Homo sapiens: one gene and its partner. The protein of the gene in region 2 interacts with the protein of the main gene of each other region in a pairwise test. Each region holds a gene or a part of one and is shown on either strand. Other genes may lie near its edges. The genes, in order: BHMT and ALG9.

Region 1 (3,923 bases), on a different chromosome or scaffold from region 2:
CTTTGATTATGACCTAATTAACAACAACAATAATATATATATGTATACATATATATAAATATATATATATATATACTACTGCCAGCACAGTTACATAAAAAACATAACAAGGGTCACTTAAATGAGATATGACTTGCTACTAACTTTTATTTGGATAAAATAATTCATGACATTTGGGCAGTTAGCAGCTCCCATTGAACGTGTGTGTTTTCAAATTTTAGTACCACAGCATTTTAATGTGCAGCATAGCTAAGGATCTGATGCTGGGTGGCAGGGTGGGTAGTGGCGATTCAATTACTATGTGGCTCATGCACTTGTTGAGTGGTTACCTCTGGAAATATGATCTCTTACATTCTATTGCATTTTAAAATTATCTAGACTTCAGGATTTTCTGTTCCCAAGCTAAACAGACTTTTTAAAAGGTGGAATGTGCTATGAAAAAAATATACCATTTTGTGAAAAAGTATTACAAAACAGTATATGTAATATCAGCCCATTTTTGTCTAAGAAGTGCATATTTGCCTCAACAACAAACTAGCAGAATATACACCAGAATTTAACAGGCACTGTTCTTTGTGCTTTCCCTCATTGTTTATAATGAACATGTGCAAACTTTGTAACATTTATTTTAATTTTAAACTCAAATGTGTAGACATGTTATTGTCCATATATTGTTTTAACACTGACATATGCACGGAAACAAGTTACTAGGAAACTGTTTTTTCCATCTTACATTCATCTGTTGCTTAGATAATTCTACAAAGATAATTCTTTAAAATGTTAGATTTTCTGAGTTTGAGTTTGGGGAATAAGTTAGACTTACGTGGCTATGAGAATGGGGACAAACAAAAAATATCTATATCTATAGGAATCATCCTTCCCAGTCTCTGTGGACTATTCATTTAGTACATTTAGGGACTGGCGAAATTCTCACCCTCCTTTGACTGGTGATAGTCCATAGTCCTTTGCCATCTCAACACCCACTCATGCCATCAACATGCATCCACGATGCTGCATTTAGAATCTGTAACCGAATTGACCTTCTTCCTTGTGTAGAGGTCTTTTTGATTTGGGAGGCCATCCCTTTAGAAACTGGGCACACCTCAGCTGGTTCTCCAGCAGGGCAGGCACTGGGATGAGAGCTGGACCTTTCTCACTGTCCTTACAGCCCAGAGGATACAGTTGGCCTGGCCCCATCTGCCTCCCTACCATTTTCCGGGGGCCTCTGTCGTGCCAGGCCTGGGACTGGGCATTTGACCAAAAGGTCAAGTTTATTCTCTCCTCCCTCCATCCTTCTCTCTCTCTTCCCACCTGTCCAGTCTCATTCCACGGCAGTCAGTCCATCTATCCATCCGTTCCCCAAATTAGAGGAAGGCCTACCGTCTGGACTGAAAATACCCCTCCCAACAAGCCACTGGGATAGCCAAGAGATGGACTTGTTCATCTGGAGCTGGAATTGGGTTTTACAATTTCATCAACAGCCCTTCCTCAGTATCTTACAGCCACTCTGCCCATTTTTTCTTAAACCATGTTTTCGAGGCTGACATTTCGGATGACATTTTTCTGTCATCACGGACATCAAATTGCCTGTGAAAATCTGCAATCACCCAACCAGCGCCTGGGCCTTGGGTGCAGCGAGAACCCGGCGGGGAGGCGGCCCCGACACCCGCGGTGCAGATCCAGGCGGGAAATGTCGGAGCCAGCGCCGTGCACTCCTCCCTGTTCTGGGCGCGCCGGGTGCAGAGGGCGCTCGCGGCGGCCTCGGACACAGATGCGGAGGGGCTCCGTGGGGACGGGATATCGCGCCTGCGGGGCTAGGAGCAGTATCTCTAGGGAGTTTTCTGGTCTTGGGGTGCCAGATTCAGAAGATATTGGAAGGCTCGGAGTTCTGGGGACACCCAGCCGTCAGGGAGGGCTCAGAGGGTGCCTTTGGGTCTGAGAGGCAAGGATCACATAGATCTGGGGCGCACTCTGGTCCAAGCTGGGCTGGGGCTGGAGGGGACAGAGGCGCTCTGGGGGCGCGCTCTGAACGTGGGGCAGGAGTGGGGAGGCTCAGAGGCGCCTTGGGGTCCTGCTGGAGAAGTTCTGGAAGCACATTCTGGTCTGAGGCTGAGGGAGGGGAGGGAGTAGGAGGATGATGGGTACCAGGCAGGGTCCGAGGGCCCCTCTGCGCTCCCAGAGGCTGGGATACAGAGCAGGTGGGAGGGGAAGGAGAGCGCCCTCGGGTCCCCTGGAGACTCACCTTCTTGGCCTTTTTGCCCCCAACGGGTGGCATCTTCGTGGTGTCCAGACAGGTGGTCGACACGGATGCGGACCGACTAGGCGAGCCTTCCCGCTGCGCAGCCCCGAGCTGCTCCGAGTCCGCAGCCTGCCTCTTTATACCCGCAGTTGGGCGTGGGGAGGGCCTCCCAGCCACCGCGCGGGCCAACACGGACCTTGGGCGGGAACACGCCCACCAGCCCTTCATCAGGCCCGCCTCCTGTTGGGAACCTGGCCTGCCAAGGAGGTAATCCAGATTGTTCACCCAAATGGGTGGAACCACCGAAAAGTAAGATAAGAAAAAGCGAGGTTGCCACTCGCTCAGATTTCAAACCTGCCTAGCGTCCCTTTTGCCTCTTGCACTTTTGCCCCGACCCTGACCGTCCTCTCGCTCACCTGGGATCATGCACCATGGCCCACTTAGGCTGCCAGAGAGGCCTCTGAGAAGTCCATTCGATGCTCAGATATTTGTCAAAGGCCAAGGCGTCAAGATTATGGAATCAGGGGATGAAGTCCTGGAAGATCTTCAGCCTGGAGTGTGATCTCCTGTGTGATATACATCCAGTATAACGGGACACAAATGCGGCTTTAGTAGAGGAGTCCAATACTAACCCTGAATTGGCGGGTATGTTCAAAATGACCTTCTACCCCTATACCCAAACATGCCTTGCAGTTTCTAATAACACAGTAGTTTCTAATAAGAATATGTTTGTAATATTTAACAAGGACAGACTTTTAACATTTATAAATGGAAGCAGAAATGTACTTTGAAGACTTCAAAATTCAGCATGAAAACGATATAAAAACATAGACATTAGAAGAACTGGAGGGAATAGAGATGTTAACAGTAGTTACCTATTGATGGCGGAATTAAGGCTTGTTTTATTTTATTCTTCATGTTTCACTGTATTTTCCAAAATATTTTTATAATGAGAATACATTGATTTTAAAATAATAAAAACATTACTTTAAAAAATGTACAGCATGGCCTGCACGGTGGCTCATGCCAGTAATCCTAGCACTTTGGGAGGGTGAGGCGGGTGGATCACCTGAAGTCAGGAGTTCGAGACCAGCCTGGCCAACATGGTGAAACCCCCGTCTCTGCTAAAAATACAAAAATTAGCCGGGCATGGTGGCAGGCGCCTGTAATCCCAGCTACTCGGGAGGCTGAGGCAGGAGAATCGCTTGAACCCTGGGGGCAGAGGTTGCAGTGAGCCGAGATTGTGCCATTGCACTCCAGCCTGGGCAAAAAGAGTGAAACTCTGTCTCAAAAGAAAAAAAAATGTACAGCATGACAGTAAATAGCCTACAGAACAATGAAATATCTGAAACACAGTTCAGAAAATTTTACCCAAATAAAAGCATGTAAAAAAATTCTGTATGTGGACAAACAACCTCCATTTCAACACATGCAGAGAAGAAAGTTACTGCAACACCTGATGAATTAATACAAATTTAACGGCTAAAGTGACATGTGTTTGAAATACAACTGAGAAAGTAAAAATGTCCTTTTGCTTCTAAGTATGTCAAGTTTAAAATGGAAAAAGAAATGAAAAGGTGAAAGGATATACTGTTATTCAAGTGATCTATTATTTCATTGGCTCCTCCACCCCCAACTGTGATCTGGGGTCAGCAAGAATGAGGCATGAGGTAAAGTCATTCTT
Region 2 (3,823 bases):
AACTGGTATAGACATTTTAACCACAGCCTTCCCCAGTGTCCACATAATGGTGGAGAACTTTCACTACTGTTGGGTCAAGAATGTCTTCTCTCTTCTAGCTGGAGTTTCTAGACCACTTTTAGAAGAGGATTAACATCAGATCATTATAGAAATGTAAATATGAATCCCCACGAAGAGCCACTGGCAAAAGCCTAGGACCCAGGGCATTTTCAGAAGTCCCCAGACACCTGCAGTTATGGGCAGTGCAGAATGTCTACCTAGACCCAGCCCTCAGCCTAATAAGCCTAATGAACACAGGAGGCAGGTACACAGTACACAGGCCCCACAGCTCTCCGACGTGGTAGATAATTCAATAACTCTCTGTGAAAACTCCAAAAGAAAACAAAAATTAGAAGACACTGATATAGAACTGCTCTATTTACTCCTTCATTTAAAACCCTAGGAATTAAAGGACAACTTACTTGTCAGGAAGAAGGAAGCTGCTGGGAAATCGATACCACTCTTTTCCCACACAGACATTCACAGGTCTGCCTTCTGGGACAGTGTGGATGGTTGGGTCTGTAGCAATTCGGTAAAATTCTGGATACAAATCAAGGGGCCCGTGATATCCTGGAAGGGAGAACAGTTAGTGAGAGCCAGAGATGAGTAAGATGAGATTCTCACTTTAATTATACTGCTCATTAATGTCGCACTGTAAGCCACAGGAAATTTAAAAGGCAGGAAGGGCCATAGCCATTCCAGCATGAAGCCTGCTCTGCAGGTATAAAATGTCTCTCTAGCTGGGAACACGGTTACAGCAGAGGCCCTATTCTGCAAAAAATAATTGGCTTTCTTGCCCCTCTCTATGCTCCTTCTTCTTTTTACCTTCATTTTCCTTGAGCATATTTTTAATATTATGGATCCAAACAATGATTATAAGAAAGAATATAATCATGAAATGTTAGCCCAAATTTGCATTTTAAGTTTAAGGCTTCCTTAATTTATCAGCATCCATTAAAAGAAAAAAACAACAAAAATAGACAAAAAATGTACAGTTAATCACACTAAAAGGAATTCTCAATCTTCTCTTCAATCCTAAGATACAGAAGTCATATGCCACTCATTAATATTAAGTCTACAGGTTCTCTTTTTAGAAATGGCTTCTTAGTATAAGCCAAATATGTATTATATAATCATGAATCAAGTAAAACCTAAGAGCAAGTGACTCGTCAGTGTAGGTTAAGATATTCTTAGAAGATCTACCTCTGAACAGTGCCACAGAGCGAGAAAATGACAAGAGCCCAAACAGGAAGACAGTTCCTAATGCCAGCCAATTCGATGTCACAGTATAGTGCTCCAGGCGATATCGTTGAAACACAAAGTGGTAACATTTCTGGAAGTACAGAAAACTGTGCTGATAAAAGAAAATATAATTTGTAGAATATACATAATTACAAGACATCACAGTAACATCAAGAGCGAAGCCAAAAAAGAGGTTCTATTAGGGATCTGAGCATTTGCCAACAGTGAGGTACCTACTCCAAACTCTAAGATAAAAGCCAACTCCTCTAAGACTACCTGTAGTCTTGGCCAGGCAGAGGGCTTGCCAACAATAAAATCTCACTAGCTTCATAGGAAAATTATTTGAATATTTTGCTAGCATTTATAGTCCTAATAAGTTATTTTTTTTAAATATTTAAGCAATGCTTTTTTGGTAGTTTTGATATATAAAGTATTCCAATTTGTTTTTGATATAATGAGTACTAATCTTTACTATCAAAGTTTTTATCAAAGCTATTAGTATCAAAAAAAGGTCTCATGACCAAATAAGAAAAAAGAATTCCCCTTATAGAACACTAGGAACATGCTCTTAATTATATGCTGAATGACTTTACAAACTAGATGAATATAATATAAACACACATGCATGAATTCTGCTGTCTTTGAGTACCTTCTACTCAGACTTCTTCCCTTCCTTCCTTCCCTTCTAGACAGAAACTACTTACAGAAAGCAATTTTCCAATATATAACAAATGGCATAAATCTGTTTGAACCTTTTTCATATTTTTTGGAATCTATCCTGAGGAATCAATCTAAATATCTAAATGAAGATATTTATCCTAGCATAATACTGAATAAATGAGCAACCTAAATTCTACCATGAATTATATCCAATAATTACATTATATAAAGTCAAGTCAATATATTACATATTACATAATAATGCTATATATTATATCCAACTCAGAACATTCTACAGCTACTAAAATGATAAGCACAGAGAATGTTACAATATTAAATTAAAAGGGATATAAAGTGGCTGGGTGCGGTGGCTCACGCCTGTAATCCCAGCACTTTGGGAGGCCGAGACGGGAGGATCACAAGGTCATGAGATCGAGACCATCCTGGCTAACACAGTGAAAACCCCGTCTCTACTAAAAATACAAAAATTAGCCGGGCGTGGTGGCGGGCGCCTGTAGTCCCAGCTACCCGGGGGACTGAGGCAGGAGAATGGTGTGAACCCGAGAGGCAGAGCTTGCAGTGAGCCGAGATTGCGCCACTGCACTCCATCCAGCCTGGGCGACAGAGCAAGATTCCGTCTCAAAAAAAAAAAAAGGGGGGGGGGGATATAAAGTTACATGTATACTTATTATTACAACTATAACAAACCTTGGTATATGATATACAAAAATGCTGGGAGGAGTTTTTGTTAGGTTAATGTGACTAATTTTTCTTTTACTACTTCCTAAATTATCTGCAATAAAGTTCAATTACTTTTATAATTAAAATTATTTTTTAAAACTATCACCTAATATTGATGAACCTTGAAAACATTATGTTAAGAAAAGCCAGTCACAAAAGACCACATATCATATGTTTCCATGTATAGGAAATGTTCAGAATAGGCAAATCTATAAGAACAGAAAGTAGATTAATGGTTACTTAGGGCTGGTGAGAGATGAGAAAGGGAATGGGGGAACAATAGCTAAAGGGTACAGGGTTTTTGATCTAAAACTGACTGTGGTGACAACTGCACACATCTGTGAATAGACTAAAAACCACTGAATCATACCCTTTAAATAGGTAAACTGTATGGTTTGTGAATTATATCTCAAAAAACCTGTTAAGAAAAAAACCTATCATCCTAATTATTTTTTTTCTGCCAACTGCAAATGGTAGCAGAGGGCAATACAGGGTTCTGAGGCTACTGAAGCCGTAAGTACAGAGATATTCAAACAGAGTTAAGATGAGCTCTGCCAGAGAATTGACCTGGGCAGGTTTTCAACCAGGATTACAAAGTGCCCCATACTGTGAACTGCCTGCTGTGATCCCAAACTCTTGAGCAAGTTTTGTTATGATCTAGCAGTTCAAAGAGCAGACATTCCATTACTTCTGCCACAGAATGGAATTCTGCAATTGGATTCCTGTTGGTAACAGAGGCAAAGTAACACACAAATTAACACTGCAAACATGTAATCAGCAAATACAAGTATGGTAAACAGCTAAGCAATCAATATAAGAAGGTTTAATAATATGATCTATATCAGGTTTAATGTTATGGATAAAATATCTTAGGTGGAAGCATTCTGTAATTTGCACTTAAGTTTGTGAGCAATTATTTAATAAGTAAAAAAGAATGAGGCAGATACACTTCTCCCTGAAACTCACCTGAAGTGCAGAGAGAGCCACAGCGCCACAGAGACATATAAGTGGATACACAGGGAAAAGAAATCTCTCCTCTTTGTGAGGCTGGATGAAGAAAATTATAAACCAAATATACATTGGAGCCAAGGTAAGCCAATACGGGTGGCCTAAATTCTGAACTGCAAGACACAGAAAAATA

What was found.
Region 1: the proteins of ALG9 (region 2) and BHMT interact in a two-hybrid assay, tested with the Homo sapiens proteins (one large-scale study listed by BioGRID and IntAct).

What each region holds. Positions count from the first base shown.
Region 1 is NC_000005.10:79,110,238-79,114,160, reverse strand, and holds the start of BHMT (betaine--homocysteine S-methyltransferase 1), read right to left. Parts: upstream 2,353-3,923; 5' UTR 2,276-2,352; coding exon 2,243-2,275; intron 1-2,242.
Region 2 is NC_000011.10:111,837,007-111,840,829, forward strand, and holds part of ALG9 (alpha-1,2-mannosyltransferase ALG9), read right to left. Parts: intron 3,804-3,823; coding exon 3,649-3,803; intron 1,394-3,648; coding exon 1,243-1,393; intron 610-1,242; coding exon 462-609; intron 1-461. UniProt on the Homo sapiens protein: Mannosyltransferase that operates in the biosynthetic pathway of dolichol-linked oligosaccharides, the glycan precursors employed in protein asparagine (N)-glycosylation.